Regions from separate parts of the Homo sapiens genome. Here all the other regions are linked to region 2. The links come from fine-mapping of genetic effects on gene expression. A gene starts in region 2. Each other region holds a variant in brackets. All regions are shown on one strand. Distances are between the middles of the regions.

Region 1 (8,178 bases), 50 kb after region 2:
CAGGATTTAGGCAAAGAGTAAGTGGAGAGAATTGGGGAGAGCACTGAGATCTGCAACATACACTCCGGGGATTGCAAATAGTGCTTTACGGCTAGAGCGGCAGGAGGTGTATATGAGGGAGGAGTGACAAGGGGTCAGAGGGTAGAGAGCCTCGTGTGTCAAGCTAAGGAAGGAGGTTGAACTTGATACTAAGCTAAATGCTATAGGAAGATATCAGCAGGGGTTTGGAAAGCAGGTCAGTTAAGGAGCAGCTGGGGAAATGGGGCTGTTTAAGTTAAAGAAGAAAAGAGGGGAGATAAATCTTCTGGTTTGAAACATATACTGAGTGAAATTGTTTTATTTTATAATTAGAAAGGGCCAAGCTTTCTCCTGGTTCAGCAAACCATCTCTGATGAGCAGGTTAGGGGCAGGTTACCAGACCACCCACTATTCCCTTTTGTCAGATGCTCAGACTGCTCAACCGTAAGGGTTGGTCCTGCCTCAGAACCCACTCTGGTCATAGAGATCTCAAACTAGGGTCCATCTGTCAGGCCTGACATTTCTCTAGGGGAAGGTGGAAGGAGAGAATTAGAGATGTCTCTAGTTGCAGAATTATGGCCTGCAGTGGGCCAAAGGAACATGACTAAGACCTCACAAAAGACAAGATTCTATCTTGTGGTGAGGGGTGTGGTTGGGGGTAGGAATTAATCAGAGTGAAGCATTCTTGCCTAGAGGTAAAGCTCTCCTTTTTCATGTGTATGCTTTTTCAGAGCCTTTTGTCATTTGTCAACATGATAAATTTTGGGCAGAGTGGCACTCAAGAGCAATATGAAGACAGATTACAGTGGGTGTGAGTCTTTCTAGTCCCGACATCATCACTCTCCTAATTGCAGTGCTTTTGGCAAGCAAGCTTCCTAATTTCTGGAAGCTTTGGCCAGGATGGATAGCTAGAAGTAACGTATGAATACATGAAAGAAGTAAAAGATTTTTCCCCTGCCTCTAGGCAGAGCTGACCCTGCCAGCCAGGACAAACAGGACAAATAGGTCAGAAGGTTAGATAAACTAGGAGTCCTCTAGTCATTTTTTTGACCTTCTCTAACTCAGCGGTTCTCAACCTGGGGAGACAGTTGGCACCGTGTGTGGGGGGTGCTACTGGCATCTAGAGGGAAGAGGCCAGGATACTGCTAAACATCCTATTACACATAGGACGGTCCCTCCATAACAAAGAATTATCAAACCTAAAATGCCAATAGTGTTGAGATTAAGAAATAACCGAAAAGTGCTTCTACTTACAGAGACTTGGTTCTAAAAAAAAGAATCTGAGAATTAATCAGTTGCTGAAGCATCAGGTAGCTAGAGATAAAAACCAACTTTAGTATTCCAAGTTGGCTTCATGATTGATCCAATTTGGACATGTTCCCTTTACTGCTCTGGTCTGGACTATATCTCTACATTCATTCTTGATCCCCTAAAATTGGAGGGGAAAGAAGAGGGAAGAAAAGAAGAAAAATCAATATTTTATGTCTCTAGTTTCATCTTCTGGGAAAATGAAAACTTGAAGCTAAAATCCATAGCGTTCAATATCCTAAATGGGTGCCTTATTTAATAATGAAAAGCAGCATAGTATTAACCAGGACAGCAATAGAAGAACAATTATCAAATCATACTTGAATTTAAGGTTGATATCTGATAGAAAATATAAGAATTGAGGCTGGGTGCAGTGGCTCACGCCTGTAATCCTAGCACTTTGGGAGGCCGAGGTGGGCAGATCACGAAGTCAAGAGATCGAGACCATCTTGGCCAACATGGTGAAACCCTGTCTCCACTAAAAATACAAAAATTAGCTGGGCATGGTGACACATGCCTGTAGTCCCAGCTACTCGGGAGGCTGAGGCAGGAGAATCGCTTGAACCCCAGAGGCGGAGGTGGCAGTGAACCAAGATTGTGCCACTGCACTTCAGCCTGGCAACAGAGCAAAATTCTGCCTCAAAAAAAAAAAAAAAATTGAAATGTCAGATTTGTAAAAATAAAAAATAAAATAATGAGTGGAAGTCAATGTAAACCCAGAAACAAGTTCAAGCCTGGCATGGTGGCATACTCCTGTAATCTCAGCTATTCAGGAGGCTTAGGCGGGAGAATTCACTTGGGCTGGGGAGTTTAAGGCGGCAGTGACCCATCATCAGCCACTGCACTCCAGCCAGGATGACAGAGCAAGACCCCATCTCTCCTTTTTTTGGTTGTTTTTGGAGACAGGGTCTCACTCTGTTGCCCAGGCTGGACTGCAGTGGCATGATCACAGCTCACTAAAGCCTCACCCTCCAAGGCTCAAGCAATCCTCCCACCTCAGCCTCCCAAGTTCCTGGGACTACAGGTACCTACCACCACACATAGCTAATTTTTAATTTTTGTAGAGATGGGGTCTTACCATGTTGCCCAGGCTGGTCTTGAATTCCTAGGCTCAAGTGATTCTACTGCCTTAGCACCCCGAAAATGCTGCAACTATAGGCATGAGCCAGCACTCACAGCCCACTTCATCTCTCAAAAAAAAAAAAAAAAGCCGGGTGCGGTGGCTTATAATCCCAGCACTTTGGGAGGTCGAGGCGGGTGAATCACCTGAGCTCAGGAGTTCGAGACAAGCCTGACCAGTATGGTGAAACCCTGTCTCTACTAAAAATACATTAGCCAGGAGTGGCGGCAGGCACCTATCATTCCAGCTACTCGGGAGGCTGAGGTTGGAGAATTGCTTGAACCTGGGAGGCAGAGGTTTACAGTGAACCAAGATTGAGCCACTGCACTCCAGCCTGGGTGACAGAGCAAGACTCCGTCTCAAAAAAAAGGCCAGGCGTGGTGGCTCATGCATGTAATCCTAGCACTTTGGGAGGCCAAGAGGTCCCCACCTGAGGTCAGGAATTAGAGACCAGCCTGGCCAACATGGCGAAACCCTGTCTCAACTAAAAATACAAAAATTAGCCAGGCGTGGTGGTGCATGCCTGTGATCCCAGCTACTCGGGAGGCCGAGGCAGGAGAATTGCTTGAACCTGGCAGGCAGAAGTTGCAGTGAGCTGAGATTGCGCCACTGCACTCTGGCCTGGTCAACAGAGCAAGATGCCATCTCAAAAAGAAAAGAAAAGAAAAGTTCAAATAAAGATTAGGTAGGCTGGGAGTAGCAGTTCACACCTGTAATCCCAGCACTTTGGGAGGCCAAGGTGGGAGAATCTCTTGAGCCCAGGATTTCAAGACCAGCCTGGGCAATATAGTGAGACCTCATCTCTTAAAAAAAAAGACAGGTAAAGAGCAACTTAAATACATTTATTTTTTATTTTTTAAATGAATTAAAAAATTTTTTTTTTGGAGACTGGGTCTTACTATGTTGTCCAGGCTGGAAGTAGAGCAGACATTTTGTGACCATAGGGTTATCATAAGAATAAAAGTAGGCCAGACTCACGGCTGTAATCCCAGAACTTTGGGAGGCCGAGGCGGGCAGATCATGAGGTCAGGAGATCGAGACCATCCTGACCAACATGGTGAAACCCCATCTATACTAAATATACAAAAATTAGCTGCTCATGGCAGTGCGTGCCTGTAGTCCCAGCTACTTGGGAGGCTGAGGCCGGAGAATCGCTTGAACCAGGGAGTTGGAGGTTGCAGTGAGCTGAGTTCCTGATACAGTGTGGAGTGATCATACCAGTTTTTAACTTGTATTTTTTTTTTTTCTAATCAAAAAACTATAGTCACAGCACTTTGGGAGGCCAAAGGAGGAGGACTGCTTGAGCCCAGGAATTGAAGACAAGTCTGGGCAACATAAAGAGTCTCTGTCTAAACAACAAAAAAAAATTTTTTTTTTTTTTTTGAGACAGAGTCTCACTCTGTCACCCAGGCTGGAGTGCAGTGGCGCAATCTCAGCTCACTGCAAGATCCGCCTCCCGGGTTCACGCCATTCTCCTGCCTCAGCCTCCCGAGTAGCTGGGACTACAGGCGCCTGCCATCACGCCAAGCTAATTTTTTGTATTTTTAGTAGAGACGGGGTTTCACTGTGTTAGCCAGGATGGTCTCCATCTCCTGACCTCACGATCCACCCACCTCAGCCTCCCAAAGTGCTGGGATTACAGGTGTGAGCCACCGCTCCTGGCCAACAAAAAAAAATGTTTTAGGTCGGGCGTGGTGCCCAGCACTTTGGGAGACCAAGGCAGGCGGACCACCTGAGGTCAGGAGTTCGAGACCAGCCTGGCCAATATGGTGAAACCCCATCTCTACTAAAGATACAAAAAATTAGCCTGGTGTGGTGGCGAGCTCCTGTAATCCCAATTTCTCAGAAGGTTGAGACAGGAGGATTGCTTGAACTCTGGAGGCGGAGGTTGCAGTGAGCAGAGATGGTGACACTGGACTCCAGCCCGGGCAACAAGAGCAAAACTCCATCTCAAAAAAAAAAAATTTTTTTTTCAAATTAGCCAGGCGTGGTGGCACCCATCTATAGTCCCAGCTACTCAGGAGCCTGAGGTAAGAGGATTGCTTGAGCCCAAGAATTCCAGGCTGCAGTGAGCTATGATGGTGCCACTGCACTCCAGCCTGGGCAACAGAGCAAGACTCCGTCTCTAGAAAAACTAAAAGATAATGTGTAAAGACACATTTAGTAGTGTGTTAACTATACAAAAAAGACACTGTATAGTTTAAAAACAAATCCTACACAGCCTTACTTTTCAATTTTTTTCTTTTTTTTTTTTTTTTTGAGATGAAGTCTCGCTCTGTCGCCTA[C/T]GCTGGAGTGCAATGGCGCGATCTCAGCTCACTGCAATCTCTGCCTCCCGGATTCAAGTGATTCTCATGACTCAGCCTCCCGAGTACCTGGGATTGCAGGCACACACCACCATGCCCAGCTAATTTTTGTATTTTTGTAGAGATGGGGTTTCGCCATTTTGGCCAGGCTGGTCTTGAACTCCTGACCTCAGGTGATCTGCCCACTTTGGCCTCCCAAAGTGTTGGGATTACAGACAGGCATGAGCCACCGCGCCCGGCATCAATTTTTTCTTTAAAGGGAGTAATTTGTATACAGAAGGGTTAAATGCTTTTTAGACAGAAAAAAAAATGTGATAGAACCAACTTATTAATCATCTTCATCTTCCTCCTCCTCATCTTCCTCATCTTTCTCCTCTTCCTTCTTTCTCTTTCGTTTTTTCAGCCTTGACGACTCCCTTTTTTGCTATATCAGGCTTTCCTTTAGCTTGATATGCAACAATTTCCATTTCCTATTTTTCCTTTAGCTTCTCAGCCTTCTTTTCATAAGGCTACTTGCCATCCACAGCAGTGTTTTTTTGGTCATTGTTTTTTGAGACAGAGTCTCACTCTATTGCCCAGGCTGGAGTGCAATGGTGCGATCTCTGCTCACTGCAACCTCCGCCTCTCGGGTTCAAGCGATTCTCCTGCCTCAGCCTCCCGAGTAGTTGGGATTACAGGCGTGCACCACCACGAGTGGCCAATTTTTGTATTTTTAGTACAGACAGGGCTTCACCATGTTGGCCAGGATGGTCTCGAACTCCTGACCTCGTGATCTGCCCACCTCGGCCTCCCAAAGTACTGGGATTACAGGCGTGAGACACCATGCCCGACTGCAGCAGTGTTATTCCACATCTCTCCCAATTTCTTTGCAACATCACCAATGAATAGGCCTGGGTGTTCTTTGATTTTTGGGCAATACTCAGAACAGAAAGACAAAAAGGCTACAGGAGGCCTTTTGGATGCACTGGGATCTTTGAACTTCTTTTTATCTCCCCTTTACGGGGGACATAGGTTTTCATTTCTTTTTTATAACGGGCCTTGTCCACCTTTGCCATGTCTTCAAATTTTCCTTTCTCTTTAGCAGATACAGTTTTCTACCTCTCTGAGCACTCTTAGAAAATGCTGGCTGGGCGTGGTGGCTCACGCCTATAATCCTAGCACTTTGGGAGGCTGAGTCGGGTGGATCACCTGAGGTCAGGAGTTCGAGACCAGCCTGGCCAACATGGCAAAAACCCTGTCTCTACTAAAAATACAAAAATTAGCCAGGCATGGTGGCGCACACCTGTAATCCCAGCTACTCAGGAGGCTGAGGCAGGAGAATCACTTGAACCCGGGAGGCAGAGGTTGCAGTGAGCCAAGATCGCGCCACTGCACTTCAGCCTGCGCGATGGGAGCAAGACTCCATCTAAAAAAAAAAAAAAAAAAACTCTGAGAAGCTGACTGAAGCCTCTGGGTGCTTATGTTCCTCCCGACAAGTTTTGCACGAAAAATGCATATGATGACATTTTGCCTCTAGGTTTCTGAGGATCTCCTTTGCTCATGTCTAGTTATTTTTCCTCAGTGAGGCACAGAGTCACCCTGTGCCTGTCAGGCTCTCACTTGCCCTGGTGCTGTCTCTATGGAGCTTAACATACTGTAACAGCTGTCTACTTCTTTTTTTTTTTTTTTTTTTTGAGACAGAGCCTTGCTCTGTAGCCCAGTCTGGAGTGCAGTGGCATGATCGCCTCCCGGGTTTAAGCGATTATCCTGCCTCAGCCTCCAGAGTAGCTGGGATTACAGGTGTCCACCACCACGCCTGGCTATTTTTTTTGTATTTTTAGTAGAGACGAAGTTTCACCATGTTGGCCACGCTGGTTTAGAACTCCTGACCTCAAGTAATCTGCCTGCCTCGGCCTCCCAAAGTGCTAGGATTACAGGCGTGAGCCACTGTGCCCTGCCTTACTTGCTTTTTATCATTTTGTTTTGCTTTTTTTTTGTTGAGGCAGGGTCTTGCTCTGTTGCTCAGGCTGGAGTGCAGTGGTGCATTCATGGCTCACTGTGGCCTAAACCCCCTAGATTCAATCAATTCTCTCATCTCAGCCTCCTGGGTAGCTGGGACTACAGGCATGCGTCATCATGTTTGGCTATTTTTTGTTTGTTTGTTTAATTTTTTGTAGAGATGGGTACCCCTATGTCGCCCAGGCTGGTCTCCAACTCCTGAGCTCAAATGATCCTCTCATCTCGGCCTCCCAAAATGCTGGGATTACAACCATGAGCCACTCCACCTGGCCCTGTCTACTTGCTTTTTTTTTTTTTTTTTTTTTTTTGAGACGGAGCTCGTCTTGTTGCCCAGGCTGGAATGCAAATGGCGCGATCTTGGCTCACTGCAACCTCCACCTCCCAGGTTCAAGCCATTCTCCTGCCTCAGCCTCCCGAGTAGTTGAGATTACAGGCATGTACCATCACGTCCGGCTAATTTTGTATTTTTCGTAGACACGGGGTTTCTCCATGTTGGTCAGGCTGGTCTTGAGCTCCCAACCTCAAGTGATCCACCCGCCTCGACCTCCCAAAGTGCTGGGATTACAGGCGTGAGCCACTGTGCCCGGCCCTGTCTCCTTGTTAAATGGGAAAAATTAATCCCCTATTTGGTTAAGCTTGTTATTTGCAGTTAATCTGTTACTTTCAGTTGCATTCAATTTTAACAAATAGATATCCTTGATAACAGTGTTTCTGAAATTGGTATTTGTAGGCCTCTGTACATTCAAATATAATTTTAAAAATTGAATCCTTGTAAATTGAAGAATTCAACTGTTTTCTTTTAGTGATAATCTAAAAAAATTTAACATAAACATATTCTAAATCATCTGTATGAAAAATAAGCCCGGTAGTGGTGACTCAGCCTGTAATCCCAGTACTTTGAGAGGCCGAGATGGGTGAATCCCTTGAGACCAGGAGTTCGAAACCAGACTGGACAACATGGCGTAACCCTGTCTCTATTAAAAATACAAAAATCAGTCAGGCATGGTGGCACATACCTGTAATTCCAGCTACTTGGGAGGCTGAGGCACAAGAATCACTTGAACCCAGGAGGTGGAGGTTGCAGTGAGCCGAAACCATGCTGCTGCACTCCAGTCTGGGCAGCAGAGCAAGACTCTGTCTCAAAAAAAATAAAATAAATAAAAGAAAAATGAGTGCTGTCTTGTGATTTGGGTTCCCATTATTTTATTTTATTATTTTTTGAGACAGGGTCTCACTCTGCTCACTCTGTCACCCAGGCTGGAGTACAGTGGTGCCATCTCGGCTCACTGCAGCCTCGAGCTCTGGGACTCAAGCAATCCTCCCACCTCAGCCTCTGGACTAGTTAGGACCACAGGCACACACCACCACACTGGGCTAATTTTTTATTTTTTGTGGAGATGGTGAAGGGGTGGGTTGCCCCTCCACACCTGT
Region 2 (8,178 bases):
AAAAACCAACTAAGAACTAGTTAGAAAGCTAAGAATGACAGGATTAATTTAGCATGTAGATATACATCACCTTAAACAATACTGCTTTAATGGCACGAGGGGACAAAAGCCAACCTAAGACTTTTTGCAGACGACAAAACTGTGGTCCAATATCACTACTGAAGCAATGAAGCTGCTATCAAAGCCAATTCTAAGCCAGGCGAGGTGATGCATGCCTGTAGTCCCAGCTACCCAGAAGGCTGAGATGGAAGGATTGCTTGAGACTAGGAGTTGGGAATCCAGCCTGGGCAACATAGTAAGATCCTCATCTCCTAAATTTAAAAAACCTGAACTGAGGTTTATTTCTCATTCCATTTTTTTTCTTTCTACTGGTTTGGAAGTTATATTTATTCTTTCAATGGTCATCCTCGAATTATAATGTACATTCTTACCTAAAGTCTAAATTCAAGTCATTTTCTTTATCCTACCCTTAAACATGAGGACCTTATAAACTTTACCTCTAAGTGTCCCCACTAACTTACTTAACTGAGACACACTGCTTTCATGTTCTCTCACACTAATTAGATGGGGAAACGAAGAATGAAAATGAAAATGAAAATACTAGCCAGGCTTGGTGGCTCACGCCGGTAATCTCAGCACTTTGAGAGGCCCACGTGGGTGGATCCCTTGAGCCTAGGCGTTGGGAGACCAGCCTGGGCAACATGGCAAAAACTCGTCTTTACAAAATAAATACTAGAATCAGCTGGGCCTTGTGGTGTGCGCCTGCAGTCCCAGCTACTCGGGAGGCTGAGGCCGGACAATCACTTGAGGCCAGGAGGTAGGGGCTGCTGTGGGCCGAGATGGCATCACTGCACTCCAGCCTGGGTGACACACACACACACCACACACACACACACACACACACACCACACACACACACACACACACACACACACACACACACACACACACGGCACGGTAGGGGCTGCAGGGGGCCGAGATGGCATCACTGCACTCCAACCTGGGTGACAGAGACCCTGCCCCCCCACCCCCACACACCCAGCACATATAATTGCTCAGTTTTAGCTTTCAATTTATGCTGTGAGGAACTAAATGGTTTGCTTTCTTCTAGCCACATATACATAAACTTTCTCTATGTATAACCTGCCAGGAAACTAAATTCACTAATGACCTAACTCTGGCTAGACACAGGGGACCTGCAAGAGGTATTTGTTGCATACTTCTACCTCAAAAAACAAAAACAAAAACACCTGGCCCTGCGCCGTGCCTCACGCCTGTAACCTCAACACTTTGGGAGGCCAAGGCGGGAGGACTGCTTGAGTCCAAGAGTCTGAGACCAACCTGGGCAACATTAAGACCTTGTATCTACAAAAAATTGGCCAGGTGTAGTGGCACACCTGTAGTCCCAAGCTACTAGGGAAGATCAGTTGTGCCCAGGAGTTCGAGGTTGCAGTGAGCTATGATCACAACACTACACTCCAGTCTGGATGTGAGATCCAGACCCTGTCTGCAAAAACAAAACAAAAACACACAGCTGTCAGTGAAATACTGACTGCTAGAGCTGTCTAGGAAACATTATAAAAAGCAGCTCTTTTTATAATAGCTATAGCACGACTCCCAAGCCCAATCTATACTGCTTATATCGAATCAATGGGGAAAGAGGCAGGTAATGGGAGTTTGAAATTAAAATTGTATTTCCCATGAGTTCCCAAATGATTCTCAGGGTGACTTGAGAACCACTGCTCTACAAGAACGCAGAGAGAAAAGGTGGTAAGCAGAGATATACGTAAATCTCTAACTATAAACAAACAAAGACATAATCATGACAGAGTGTAAGCCTATAGAATATCAATTTAAAAAACTTCACAGCAACCATTCCTTTTACAGGGAAGGCAACTAACCTCTAAAGCGCACAAGATTAGAAAAAAAAATAGAACCAGATGCCTAAAAAAATATGGCAAGATTGGGAAATCAGACCTACTGTATGGGAAACAGCACTTGTTTCCTTGAACTCGTGTAGTGTTTCCCTCCACTGTTCAAAAAACAGATTACGCCTGAGTGGCACTGTGCCGCTTTCAAAACAATCCTATCTTGTTTCCCTCCAGTCCTTCTCCACTTCGTGCATACTACTGCCGATTCACCTAGCAACCAAACAGTGCTGGTGAGAGCTCCAGACAGCGCTTCCTGAAGACGCTTTACGTCCGGTAATGTTCCCCCCAAACAGACACCACCTCCAAAGTCTAAAGAACGACAATCCTCCCCACCACAGGCAGGGGCTCACGGAGTCGCGGGGAGCGATAACTATCTCCCAGCACAAGACGTGAGCGAGGTGTCGGGGGGAACTAGCCTCGCCGGCCCCACGGAGATAGTCCAAAGCTCCTGCTGGAGCCGCAGCGGCCCCAAACAATGGAGTTTTCCCGCCTCCTCAAGGCCCCGCCCCCTGCCCCAGGGCCGGCGAGGGAAGCGAACGCACGCGCGCAAAACCCCGCCCTCAGCAAGGCCCCGCCCACCCCGACCCCTCAGGTCCAGCCTCCTTCCTCGTGCAAGGTTTTTTTTCCCTTTTGGCGCCAAATCTTCGTTGGTTATATTCCCGGGTTATCCAGGGGTTCTACCAGAGGCACACGCTGGGGACAGAAGGGGCGTGAAGGCCAACCCGCGCGCCAGGGCCCCGCCTCCCGGCCAACCGCCCCGGGCTGGGGGAGGAAGGAGAGGGGCAGGCGAAGGATACAGCCGCCGCTGCCCCCGGCAAGATGGCGGCCGCGAAAAGCGGGGCAGGGGGCGCCAGCCGACCGCCGTTACCGCTGCTGCGCGAGGCTCTCAGCAAAAGAAGGACTGCTCCAGTGACCAGGCCTTCCCGAACAGCGACAGCTGCTCTTGGGAAGGCAAGTACTCCCGCCCACCGGTCTGCCCCTTCTCCGGAGCCCCCGTCCATTAGCCCTCCCCGCGGACTGGCCAGTGCCTTAAGCTTTCCACAGTCCCGCTTACTTGTCGGCAGAAACCAGCTCCGCGGCGACGGCGGCAGTGGCTGTGGACTCCATGGCCATCGTTCCCCTGAGGTGGCGAACCAGCGAACGGAATAGAGCCTGCGAGAAAAACAGGCAATTTGGGACGCCAGAGACTCACTCAGGGACAGAAAATGGCAGATTAGAGACCCCGCGCGGCCGGGGCCCTTTTATATACGAGGACCCTTCGCCCCGCCCATCCACTTCCGGATCCTCCCCCTCGGGTTTAAAGGGCCAGGACTCACCACCCATACCCTCCGTCCCCCGCCGGCCTACCACTATCTAGACACCTCCTGCCCTCTCCATATGGCTCCGCGGGATTGTTTCCCTCCCTAGCCCGACTTCTCCAATAAACAGCAACTTCCTGCTTCTCCAGCAAGTCGCATAAGAAGAACTGGAATCTTGACACTACAACTCCTGACAGGACGCCCCTGCGGCATCCAGAGACAGGGAAGCCAGTGCTGCTCTGCATGTTCAGGGCGAGTAGCTGAGAGTCTCCTTCCGGCCTGGATACTGAGGAAGGTGACTTAGACTTTCTCTCCGTCCTCTGAGTCGTAACGGACGGACACGCAAGGGCCGAGGACGGGTACAAGCAGCAGCGACTAGAACTGATCTGGGTGAGATCTAGGCCTCAGCAACAACTGACGCAAAAAGATTTTGTTCTAGGATTGGCTACAGCTGAAACTACCGCGCTTGATTCAAAGCTCGGGGCTTGCAGCGGGAGGCAGCTGGCTCCTCCCTCTGAACCCGCCCCCTTTGGCTGGCCCAATCCGCTGATCCCATCCTCTTAGGCCCTGCCCAGACTCCAAATCTACCAGAATTAATGCTCCCAGCGCTGTTTGTCCACTCCTGCCTATGATTTGCTGTGTGACTACTACTCGTGGGGGTACCGTGATTAGACGCTTTAAAGCTATTAGCTATCTTGTTTAATATTAACAATGCTACTAGTGAGATCAGTGTTAGTCTGTTTCTTAGAAAAATAAACCAAGGGGCCGGACGCGGTGGCTCACGCCTGTAATCCCAGCACTTTGGGAGGCCTAGGCTGGTGGATCACGAGGTCAGGAGTTCAAGACCAGCCTGGCCAAGATGGTGAGACCCCCCCGTCTCTACTAAAAAATACAAAAATTAGCCGGGCGTGGTGGCGGGCGCCTGTAATCCCAGCTACTCGGGAGGCTGAGGTAGGAGAATACTAGAACCCGGAAGGCAGAGGTTGCAGTGAGCCGAGAGCTCGCCACTGCACTCCAGCCTGGGCAACAGAGCGAAACTCCGTCTCAAAAATAAATAAATAAATAGGCCAAGGTTCCAACCTGGCCAACATGGTGAAACCCCGTCTCTACTAAAAATACGAAAATTAGCCAGGTGTGGTGGCAGGCTCCTGTAATCCCAGCTACTCGGGAGGCTAAGGCAGGAGAATCACTTGAACCCGGGAGGCAAAGGTTGCAGTGAGCCGAGATCTCGCCACTGCACTGCAGCCTGGGCAACAGAGCGAGACTCCGTCTCAAAAAAAAAAAAAAGGGGAAGCTGTGACTTGTTCAGAAAGTTGCAAGACAAATCAGTTATGGAAAGCAGTGTGCCTCATTTCCTGCAAATGGCTGAGTGAAAAATAACTGGCAGGCTAAAAAGCTGCAATTCCTCACACCTGGAGTATCATCCATTCCTTTTCACCATGGCCCAGTCTACGCTGATCGGAGTAGGGGTTTTTATTTCCCTTTAGGTTCCAGCATATTGGGAAAGATTCCTGGAGAGGATTCTTATTCCAATCTGTCAAGGCTCGAAGAGGTTGAAATCTTTGGGGCTAGAGAGCTGGACGTGAAAATGCCAATTCCTATGGCAAACATACATGGGCTCTTCCATTATTAGCTAGGTGACGTGAGCCAGGTCACGTAACCCGGATTGTAATCGAGTAGCTGGGATTAAGGTTAAGTGTAAAATGAAGACATATTAGTAGCCACCGCTTAAGGACATTGTGAGAATTACAGGTAATTAGCACTGTGTAGAATTCACGCTAAGCACTCATTGAATGGCTACCACAGTCTGATGATGTGGTAAATGGAGGGTGTTGGGAGGGGAGATCTCTCCAAAGTCCTTGCAGCCAGGGCTAGGGCCTGAGAAAACCTCTGCAATTACTGGTGTGACCGATTCATCCATTAAATTAATATTCACTGAGCAACTTTGAGGTACAAGACTTTGTACTAGGTTCTGGGGACAAAAGACATGGACTCTACCTTGAGGAACTCAGAGAAATATATTTTAAAATATATTTTAGGCTGGGCGTGGTAGCAGGTGCCTGTTATCCCAGCACTTTGGGAGGCTGAGGCAGGCGGATCACTTGAAGTCAGGAGTTCGAGACCAGCTTAGCGAACATAGTGAAACACCATCTCTACTAAAAATACAAAAATTAGCCGGGAGTGGTGGCAGGCTCCTGTAATCCCAGCTACTTGGGAGGCTGAGGCAAGAGACCCACTTGAACCCAGGAGTTGGAGGTTGCAGTGAGCTGAGATTGCACTACTACACTCCAGCCTGGGCGATGGTGAGTCTCCATCTCAAAAAAAAATAAATAGCTGGATGCAGGCCGGGCGCGGTGGCTCACTCCTGTAATCCCAGCACTTTGGGAGGCCGAGGCGGGCAGATCACCTGAGGTCAGGAGTTTGAGACCAGCCTGGATCCCCTGGTGAAACCCCATCTCTACTAAAAATACAAAAATTAGGCAGGCGTGGTGGCAGGCGCCTGAAATCTCAGCTACTTCGGGAGGCTGAGGCAGGAGAATCGCTTGAACCTGGGAGGCAGTTTGCAGTGAGCCGACATCGTGCAACTGCACTCCAGCCTGGCAACAGAGCGAGACTTCATCTCAAAAAATAAATAAATAAAATAAAATGAATAGCTGGGCACAGTGGCTCACGCCTGTAATCCCAACACTTTGGGAGGCCAAGGCGGGTGCATCACACGGTCAGGAGATCAAGACCATCCTAGCCAACATGGTAAAAACCCATCTCTACTAAAAATTCAAAAATTAGCCGGACATGGTGGTGGGGGCCTGTAGTCCCAGCTACTCAGGAGGCTGAGGCAGGAGAATCACTTAAACCCAGGAGGTGGAGGTTGCAGTGAGCTGAGATCGCACCACTGTACTCCAGCCTGGGTGACAGAGTGAGACTCTGTCTCAAAAATAAATAAATAATAAATAAATAAAAATAAGGCCAGGCAGGGTGGCTCACGCCTGTAATCCCAGCACTTTGAGAGGCCGAGGCAGGCAGATCACCTGAGGTCAGGAGTTTGAGACCAGCCTGGCCAACATGGTGAAACCCCGTCTCTACTAAAAGTACAAAAATTAGCCGGGCATGGTGGTGGGCGCCTATAATCCTAGCTACTCAGGAGGCTAAGGCAGGAGAATCGCTTGAACCTAGGAGGCGGAGGTTGCAGTGAGTCGAGATTGCACCACTGCACTCCAGCCTGGGCAACAGAGTGAGATTCCATCTCAAAAAAACAAAAAATAAAAATTTTAAAAAATAAGTATATTTTAAATCCATGTACTTTTTAAATTTTTTTTGAGACAGAGTCTCACTCTGTCGCCCAGGCTGGAGTGTGCTGTCATGATCTCAGCTCACTGCAATCTCCACCTCCTGGGTTCAAGTGATTATCCTGCCTCAGCCTCCTGAGTAGCTAGCATTACAGGCGAGCACCACCGTGCACAGCTAATTTTTGTAGTTTTCGTAGAGATGGGGTTTCACCACGTTGGCCAGGCTGGTCTTGAACTCCCGACCTCAGCTGATCCACCCACCTTGGCCTCCCAAAGTGCTAGGATTACAGGCATAAGCCACCATGCCCGGCCTGTTTTCCTCATGTAACCCCAGGAATTAAAAGTCCTCAAAGGCCAATGGTCCAAATAGGAGATTGGCAAATGAAGGATCTTGTGGGGGCTGGGTTTTCTTCTGCCTGTCCGTGGAGTTATATACGTGTTGTGTGTGACGTCTATAGAAATAGCTCTAATTAATTGGCCTAAAGGAAGATAAGCACTTGGATCAAATATTTATTAAAGGGAAGATAGGCTGGGTGTGGTGGCTCACGCCTGTAATCCCAGCACTTTGGGAAGCCAAGGCGGGCGGATCACCTGAAGTCAGGAGTTCGAGACCAGCCTGACCAACATGGACATACCCCATCTCTACTAAAAATACAAAATTAGCCAGGCTTGGTGGCCCATGCCTGTAATCCCAGCTACTTGGGAAGCTGAGGCAGGAGACTCAGTTGAACCTGGGAGGTGGAGGTTGCGGTGAGCTGAGATTGTGCCATTGCACTCAAGCCTGGATAACAAGAGCGAAACTCCATCTCAAAAAAAATAAAAGGAAAGATAAAACCTGTGATACTTTTCAGTTCACCTGACTTTAATCTTTGAGAAATGAAAACAGCCTTAAAGATTATTGGTAAAAAGCCAATGTCATCAAAATATAAATAAGTGGACTGGGCCGAGTGCAGTGGCTCACGCCTGTAATCCCAGCACTTTGGGAGGCTGAGGTGAGCGGATTGCCTGAGCTCAGGAGTTCAAGACCAGCCTGGGCATCAGGGTGAAACCCCATCTCTACTAAAATACAAAAAATTAGCTGGGCATGGTGGCGTGCTCCTGTAGTCCCAGCTACTTAGGAGGCTGAGGCAGGAGAATTGCTTGAATCCAGGAGGCAGAGGTTGCAGTGAGTCGAGATCGTGCCACTGCACTGCATCCTGGGCAACAAAGCAAAACTTTGTCTTAAAAAAAAAAAAAATAGTTGGACTAAATTATGCAGGTCAGATACCAGGTTGGCTAAATGTTTTATGGTTATAAACTGCTTTTTGGTCTCTACTAAAAATACAAAAATTAGCTTGGCATTGTGGCAGGCACCTGTAGTCCCAGCTACTCGGGACTCTGAGACACAAGAATTGCTTGAACCGTGAGACAGAGGTTGCAGTGAGCTGGAATCATGCCACTGCACTCTAGCCTGGGTGATAGAGTGAGACTCCATCTCCATCTCAAAAAAAAAAAAATTAATCTTGCAAAGAAATTATCTGTGTGAACATATTGACTAAATTCAAAAGTGTATTGTATGATTTTTCTGTAAATTGAACATTGAAATAAAAGCACAATAAGGTACTCTTAAGGCACTAATCTGCTCTTTGGCAAAATTTGTAAAGGCTTATAAAAGGTTTTTTT
Region 3 (8,178 bases), 38 kb before region 2:
CAGCGAGACTCCATCTCAAAAAGAAAAAAAAAAAAGTAAAGAGGGTTTCTTAAGAAATATGCGGTCACCTCAGAGCTCCTCCATATATTTTGGGAGTGGGAGTGGAGTGAAGAATTTCACCAACAGTTCAGGGTCTTTCTGGCTTCTGGCCAATCTTGGGAGAGAGAAGGGGTTTTTTTCTGGACTTGATTCCCTCATCTGATAGATTCATTCTGTTCGCCCACAGCTTTCATTTCTTGGGCTGTGCTGATTATCTTCGTCTACAGCTGAAAAATGAGGAATCAGGGAATGGGAGTTAGGGAGACTGCTATCCCTGGTGCGACATGGTTTCCAGGCAGAATGCTGGAAAGGTCAGAGTGCCTCCTTTGCCAGGTAGTTCTCTGGATTGGAGAATGGTACAAACTGTTACATCCACTTGGGAGTACAGCAATGAAAAAGATGACACTTGCCTTTTAGAGGCTATTAAATGACCAATGATGTAGTAAGTGATAAGGGCCCAGCCTAGTCTAGGAGGCAGCTGCTTTTTCCTCTTTATTAATAGTCAGGGAAACCAAGCTACAATTAGAGACTTGCCCACGTTCAGACTTTGTAACACTTTTTCAAGCCAGTGGCTCCTCCCAAACGGCCGAGGTTTCCCCACCCATTCTCCTGACCTGCCCAGCCCTGTGGTTGCTGTCCAGGGAGCTAAGGCTCTCCCCAAACAAACTTGAAGATCTCACAGACCTAATAGACACGGCCTTTCCTCTCTGCCTCTGGCTTTATGTCTCTTTCATCCTCCTCTGCCTTTCCCCTGCCCTTGATCCCTTCTGCAGGTCTTGGCTGGTTTCAGGAAACGGGTCCCATCCCATGGACTCCCACTCTGGGGAGCCTGCGCTCCTGCCCTGTGGGACCTGTGACATGGTTTTCCGCTCCTCAGCTCTGTTAGCCACCCATACTCAGCGCTTCTGCATTGGCCACCCGACCCAAGAGATGACATTTGGAGCACAGGCATCAGTTGCCACTGAACCCCAGCGGGCCGCGGTAAGGGCCTCCATGGCCATGGGTGGGGATTCAAAGGAGCCAGGACCTTTATGATTCCTCATCCTACTACACCCTATCCCCAGGTTGTGCCACAAGAACACCAGGGCGTGCCACAAGAACCCCAGGGCCTCCCAGACCAGCAGGCCAGTAGATCTGCTCTAAAGAGGTTAACAGAGGAGGTAGAGCTACCTACCTTCCCCCAGGGCTCAAAACGTTGAGCGTCTTCCCCAAACCTGTAGATCATACTTGGGACAGATTCTGCCCACGCAGAGATCGCGGATCGCTGTTACCTCCAGGTGCAGTGGCTGCGGCTATCCCTACAGGAAATGCGGCCCTGGATAACAGAGGTCCCCAGGGTGTTCGCGGGGCCCTGGACACGTTCCGAGGCGCGGCCTCAGAGTCCCATGTCCGAGGCGGTGGGAAGCCCCAGCGAGCGGCTGCGGGCGCTGTTCAGGACTCGCGCGAGGCGCGTGGCGGAGATGGAAGCGCAGAGCCGGGCCCTGCAGCTACGCGGCGAGGGTGAAGGAGATGGGGGACGGGGACCAAGGACCTCCTCTGCCCTCGCCGTTTGGCTTAAGCTTGCTCGGGCCGGTTCTGACTCGGCCCGCATTCCCTCAGAACTGAGCCGACGCCTCCAAGTTGTGGCCTGTACGCGGGGCGGGATGTCCCGCCTCTTCGGCCTGGAGCAGGAGATTCGAGAACTACAAGCTGAGGCCGGGAGGACGCGGGGAGCTCTAGAGGTGTTGGGGGCCCGCATTCAGGAGCTGCAGGCGGAGCCAGGGTGAGACCCGACTAAGCGGATCCCCGGAACATGCGGCTCCGGGGTGGGAGGGGCGGGCTGGCTGCAGCCCCGGGGCCTCTGATGCGTTACCGTCTCCCTGCGCGTCGCCTGCCACCCCAGGAACCCGCTGAGCTCCCGGCGAGAGGCAGAACTTTATTCTCCAGTGCAAAAGGCCAACCCGGGAACTCTGGCTGCCGAAATCCGGTGAGAGCCGGGGCCGGAGATGGGCATAGGGCGAAGCGCTGAGCAGTTCTGGAAAGACGGCCTTCCTGTTCCCCACTCCCTAGGGCGCTGCGGGAGGCCTACATTCGAGACGGGGGCCGGGACCCCGGCGTGCTGGGCCAGATATGGCAGTTGCAGGTGGAGGCGTCTGCACTGGAGCTGCAGCGGTCGCAGACCCGCAGAGGTGAACAGGAGGGCCTCTCGCCAGCGGTGGTCAGTCCTGGGAGGAGAAAAGAACTCGAGGGAGGGCCTGTGGCTGTGGATGGCATGTGAGCTGACAAGTCCAGCCTTATCCGAAGAGCCTTAGCGCTGGAGAGCTGCTCACAGCCGGACGCGGCCAGTCACCAGAGGTCAAAGGTGACAGGTCACACTTGTTCATCGCAGGAAGGGCAGGTGCCACCTCAGGGGAGCTTCCAGTAGTGGAGGCTGAAAACCGGCGCTTGGAGGCAGAAATCTTGGCCTTGCAAATGCAGAGGGGTCGGGCACCCTTGGGTCAGTGAGCACCCCAACCCTATCCCATCCCACTTATCTCTCCCCAGCAGGCCTGGCTCAGGCAGACAGTGCATGGGGAACAAGACCCGTGTTTGTGACTCCCCTAGTTCATGTCTGCACGTGTGTATCCCTGTATCCACAGGGCTCCGCCAACCCATTTGTGGGCCCAACTCTTGGGGGAGGGGTATCTCAGCTAATTACCTGCTTTGTCCAACTTAGGGGCACCCTAACTCTTCTGCTCCTAGGGCCCCAGGATCTGCGACTCCTGGGGGATGCCAGCCTACAACCGAAGGGGAGGAGAGATCCCCCACTCCTCCCGCCACCGGTGGCACCACCGCTGCCACCACTTCCAGGCTTCTCGGAGGTTCAGTTCTTGGGTGGGGCAAAGGCTGTGAGGACACGGGGTGGGTTGGGGGAACAGGTTGGAGGCAGCTCTGCTCTGAGCAGTTGGGGGAACATGAGCAGCTACAAGGCTTTCTGGAGGAGTCAGCTCTCTTCCCCACAGCCACAGCTTCCTGGAACAATGACCAGAAACCTGGGCCTGGACTCACACTTCCTCCTGCCCACATCGGACATGCTGGGCCCTGCACCCTATGATCCTGGGTGAGGCCCGTGCCACCTTCGACAGCCTCTGTGACTTGGCCAGCACTGCTGGTTAAGGGAGCCCACTAGGACCAGATAGGGTTAGGGACCTGCCTGAGAGGAGGGAGGTTGAAAGGAGTTGGGTATTTCTGTGCTAAGACTTGTGTTCCCCAGGGCTGGCCTGGTCATTTTCTATGATTTCCTGCGGGGCCTTGAGGCTTCCTGGATTTGGGTGCAACTAAGGACTGGCTTGGCACGCGATGGACGGGATACAGGAAGGACCACAGCGTTGCCCCCAGCCCTTTGCCTGCCCCCACCTCCTGCTCCCGGGCCCATGGGCAACTGTGCCATCCTTGCCAGCAGGCAGCCTGTGCCCAGGTCAGTAGGTGGGGATCATGACTCTGGTACTCTGCCACAGTTGAGGCTTATCCACCATTCTGCTAAGTTTTCTCATCTGTATACAGAGGCCGCTGGCTCTAAAGGGCTAAGTCCTAGAAAGGGACTGTAGCTCTGGCTTCCGACACTGCTTTTTGGTTATTCTACAGACTACCACCCTCATCATCAGTATCTTTGGTCTGTGAGCTGCAGGTCTGGCAGGGGCTAGCATGGGCTAGGGCACCACAGCCAAAGGCTTGGGTCTCACTTGGACTATTTGACCAAGATCAGCGGGTGCTAAGTGGCCGCTGGCGCCTCCCACTTCGGGCCCTTCCTCTGGACCCCAGCCTTAGCCTTGGGCAGCTGAATGGGATTCCTCAGGTGAGTGTGGTGCGCAGGGATTGGGCATACAGCAAAGTACAAGTGCAATACCATTTCATCTCTCCCCAGGCAGGTCAGGCTGAGCTCTTTCTGCGGCTGGTGAATGCAAGAGATGCAGCTGTACAGACACTGGCAGAGATCAATCCAGCAAGTGTCCATGAGTACCAGTACCCACCTCCGGTGAGGGCCCAGCTGCAGCTAGGGACACCACAGCTACACATACCGGTGTGGCTGGTATGGCTAAC[G/A]GCCAGCCTTTATTGACCACTGTGTGCCAGTCATTACCAATGCTTTCTTGTTTGATCCTCACATCTCTATGAAGTCCTACTATGTAACAGATAAGGAAATCAAAGCAGGAGCAGGTTAACTTGGTTCACAGTAAGTGAGACTCTAAGGAAGCCTAACTAACTCCAAAACCTGTGTGCTTAACCTTTACATTTTTGCTCAAAACCTGCCTTCTCCTGTTCCACAGGTGTCCAGCACATCTTCACTGGAAGCCAGCTTCCTCACCCCCGCAGTTGGCTTTGCTGATCCCCCACCTCGTACAGAAGAGCCCCTCAGTGGAGTCAAGGATAGAGATGAGGGTTTGGGCCCTCACCACAGTTCTGACTTGCCCCCAGTGAGTTTCTGAACCCAAGTGAATGTGGAGATGAGCATCTGAACATGCACAGGACTGGGGCCTATTTCCAGACCTACAGGTTTACTACTCCATGTTCTGACATTGGGTCTAGAAGCATCTAGCAGTTGAGTACAGAAAACCAGTTCCAACCACAGCTTTACCACCTCCCGTTAAGTCCTTAACTTTTCTGTACCTCTTCTGTTTTTGTAAAACAGATTAAGGATTAAATGAGTTTGTCAGGTATTTGTGATATTGTCTGGCACTTATGAAGTTCTCCGAAAGGTGACTAGGGGGCATTAATTCCCACTAAAGCAACTTTAAATTCCCACTAGTTCCCACTGCTTTTTTTGGTAAAGCCAGTTTTATTGCCAAACTTAAATCCGTTTCCTCAGTATTTCTGCCAGGAAACCTTTCAGGTTCTCAATGTACCCATAAACAGGAAGCTCCTGAGGCCTTATGTACTTTGATTCTGGGATAGGTCCCCAGCCCAAGGTTGTTCCCCCAACCAGGGGTCACATGTGAGATCTAGCTTAGATACTGTGCCTAGCCCTAGATCCCAGTGCCAACCAGAGAAGGTCAAGTGCCTGGGAGTAAACTACATCGTGACTGTCCTGACCAAGAAAAGGGGGCAAAGCGCCTCAGGACCTGGAACATATACTGCAAGGGCAACATCAGGAAGAAACTCCACAGCCAGGATAAGCCAGAGATCCTGCAACCATGAGTTACTGTGACCAGCCCAGAAAAACTTACTTAGTCTGAAAAATTGGGTTGAATTTAGGGGCCGGCCATCGCTTCCTCTGCCTCCAGTGCAACAAAAGCAGCCCTATGGGTGTCATGACTACTAAATTGAGGTGGTGATATAGGGCAGGCATTGTTTGGAATTCAGATCCTAACTGGTACTTAGAGTCAGGTCAGAGGCAGTTCAGTCTCAAGTGAGCCCTGACCCCTAGACACCAGTGAGAGCACAACAGGTCTAACATTAATACTAGTGCCCTCACCACCAGCATCCTTGGACTGGTGGGCTCGTTTCTGCCTTTGAAACCCTCTATCGCACACAGAAATGCTCCAGGCAGTCAGGTGAAGTGGCTCACGCCTGTAATCCTAACACTTCCTGAGGCCAAAGTGGGCAGATCACTTTAGGTCAGGAGTTCGAGACCAGCCTGGCCAACATGGTGAAACCTCGTCTCCACCAAAAATACAAAAATTAGCCTGTAGTGCTGGCTACTTGGGAGCCTCCTGAGGCAGGATAATCTCTTGAACCCAGGAGACAGAGGTTGCAGTGAGCCGAGATCACGCCACTGCACTCCAGCCTGGGCGACAAGAGCAAGATCCCATCTCAAAAAAGCAGCCTAAGACCCCACTTAAGATCTTTAAACATAATTCCAGACAAGGAGATTTTTAGCATCTTTATTTGAGAAGTCAATTCTGCAGATGGGTAACAATTCCAAGTGTTGATATATCTCAACCTTTCTATACAGAAAATAACAAAACTCAACCAGCCAGCCTCCCCACATATGCTTCCAACCACATCTGGAGTGTCCACCATCAGTCCCCTTGGCTACTTTCAAACCAGAGCTCAAATGCAGACCGTTTTCCTTAGGAATCATTCCCCTGACCCAGGTTTTCAGAGTTCTTTTTCCAGGACAGAATTATAGCCCCAGGTGAAGACTAGGTGGATATAGGACAAGAACCATCCTAGGCCTGGCTCACAGCCAAAGTCCATCATCCATTTTCAGCACTGAAGAGCAAGATCTTCACCAATTCTTGTTTTTGTAGCCCCCATCCAGGGACAGCACCACTGAAAGTTTGCAAGACAGCTGGGTTCAGTGAAGTGTTTGAAAACAGAATATAGCACCATTGGAAAACAAAGGCCTACAGCCACACTTGATCACCTCCACGTTAGACAGATAGGAATTAGGATCAGGAACACAGATCAGTACAGAAGGCCAGAACAAAACCTTTGGCTAATATATAAAACCAGCAGTGCTCCAAGGCAGATTCAGCCAATAATTAAGAAAAAAACCATCAAAGCCTCAACCTTTGCTTACAATCTTTATTGAAGTTATACAAAAAGAATCCTCCAAAAGTGAAAAAATACATTATATACAAAAACACTTTCCCTTGGGAGGAGGGCTGTGCCCCCTCTTAACATGCAGTGCTTTCAACTGTAGCTCCAGCCTCCACTGTCCCCTCCACTGCTGCCCGGCTTTCAGCCTGATTCTCAGCCTGGAAGACAAACAGAACCTGGGCATGAGTGAGCCTAGTTTAAGCCATTCTGTCTTATATAACTGAGGCCTCAGTCATAGGAAGCATATACAAGTCACCCAAACTCTGCTTTGCTCCCTATATTAAGAGGGCAGTGACCACAAAGTATTTCTTGAATACTCTGTGATAATGGGGCTGACAGAGCCAATAATCATCACGTGGAAGGAAGTGACCTAATGGTTTTGCCCATCAAGTGCCTTCTCATATATTCATCGAGGGACCTATAATATACAGGTTCCATTTGTCAGTGAGTCATCCTATACTCCCATAACCAAACTGTTTTCCTGCACAAGTACCGTTTTCTGTGAGGACTGCACTCAACAATCGTTAGCAGGCTCAAGGTGGGGAGCATGCACTTGAGAGGACTGATTTCCCCAGGTCCTGAGAACAAGGAATGAGGCAAGAGGCTAAGCCCTGCTTAACTGCCCACCTCCTCCTCCATGTTTTCCGAAACTTCATTTCCACTGGGGACAGCATCCCCACTGCCTCCGTTCACCTCCGGCTCTTGTTTGGCTTTCTTTGCATCATCTTTCCGGGGACTCTCTTCCTCTGGTTTCCTCTAAAGATATAATTGTGAAGGCTTCACAAATGTGCTTAATGTTTTTAAAAAGACAACTGCAAAACATTTCCTTAACCCTTGTGGTGCAAAGATCCTGAACATCAGGATTCACAGCTCTAAGGGTCTCTCTCCCTAGCCACAGGCAGATGCCAACCTGTACTCTCAGAATGTATTAATCTGTCCCACCATATCACTTCAGGCCCCTCTACCGGAAGCACAGGGAGATAGGGTTGGGGTGAGGAGATGTGAATGGTAATCACTGTACAAGTTTGAATTCCTGTGTTTGAGTCAGGAAACAGAACAGGAGTTCAGAGTTCCCTGGCTGAGGGCAGTGGCTCACGCTTATAATCCCAGCACTTTGGGATGCCGAGGTGGGTGGATCACGAGGTCAGCAGTTCAAGACCAGCCTGGTCAGTATGGCAAAACCCAGTCTCTACTAAAAATACAAAAACTAGCCAGGCGTGGTGGCGGGCGCCTGTAATCCCAGCTACTTGGGAAGCTGAGGCAGGAGAATCACTTGAACCCGGGGGGCAGAGGTTTCAGTGAGCCGAGACTGCGCCACTGCACTCCAGCCTGGGTGACAGAGCAAGACTCCGTCTCAAAACAAAACAAAACACAACAGTCTCCACTCACAAATCCTTACCACCTTTGGAAAATAAGTGTCTTATATGCACCAACTATAGGGAGGGGTTTATAGGAAAGGGATTAAAAATGGAGTCTGAGGAAACGGTAGAAAAGAAACACCACATGTAGACTTACCTTCTTTCTGACAAGGTGGGAAATATCAGTCACACAATTTGATGAGGAAGCACCGTCTGTTGGCTTTCTACTGGCAATCTGGCAAAATAAGCCCTTATTAGCAATTGTACAAGCTATATGAGATCA

Direction of the effects. Positions count from the first base shown, and alleles are read on the strand shown. Sizes are in standard deviations (SD) of each study's normalised expression. Not every link is listed here.
In carriers of allele T in region 1, the expression in monocytes after LPS of the gene that starts at base 3,150 in region 2 tends to be lower than with C alone (moderate effect, 0.74 SD a copy in Fairfax 2014).

The links. PIP is the estimated chance that this variant, and not a neighbour inherited with it, causes the effect.
Region 1: its variant is the best candidate, but not a certain one, in a credible set for the expression of NASP in monocytes after LPS (Fairfax 2014, PIP 0.57).
Region 3: its variant is the best candidate, but not a certain one, in a credible set for the expression of NASP in whole blood (TOPMed, PIP 0.53).

Annotation. Positions count from the first base shown.
Region 1 is chr1:45,529,039-45,537,216 of GRCh38, reverse strand. It overlaps the pseudogene HMGB1P48. Among named protein-coding and RNA genes, the nearest start is that of PRDX1, 11 kb to the right of the region's middle. The variant C/T (reference allele first, on the strand shown) is at 4,732.
Region 2 is chr1:45,579,013-45,587,190 of GRCh38, reverse strand. It overlaps NASP (nuclear autoantigenic sperm protein), which reads right to left and starts at 3,150. Exons shown (of 15, transcript NM_002482.4): 1 at 2,986-3,150. The coding sequence starts at 3,044. RefSeq lists silencers at 2,455-2,754, 3,665-3,724 and enhancers at 3,255-3,564, 4,015-4,074, 4,485-4,534.
Region 3 is chr1:45,616,578-45,624,755 of GRCh38, reverse strand. NASP (nuclear autoantigenic sperm protein) reads right to left here. Exons shown (of 15, transcript NM_002482.4): 13 at 8,053-8,130; 14 at 7,165-7,293; 15 at 5,863-6,695. The coding sequence ends at 6,615. CCDC17 (coiled-coil domain containing 17) reads left to right here and starts at 702. Exons shown (of 13, transcript NM_001114938.3): 1 at 702-1,020; 2 at 1,104-1,199; 3 at 1,317-1,539; 4 at 1,639-1,801; 5 at 1,922-2,005; 6 at 2,089-2,207; 7 at 2,408-2,515; 8 at 2,761-2,879; 9 at 3,021-3,118; 10 at 3,272-3,475; 11 at 3,643-3,853; 12 at 3,923-4,033; 13 at 4,323-4,712. The coding sequence starts at 847. The coding sequence ends at 4,481. The variant G/A (reference allele first, on the strand shown) is at 4,099.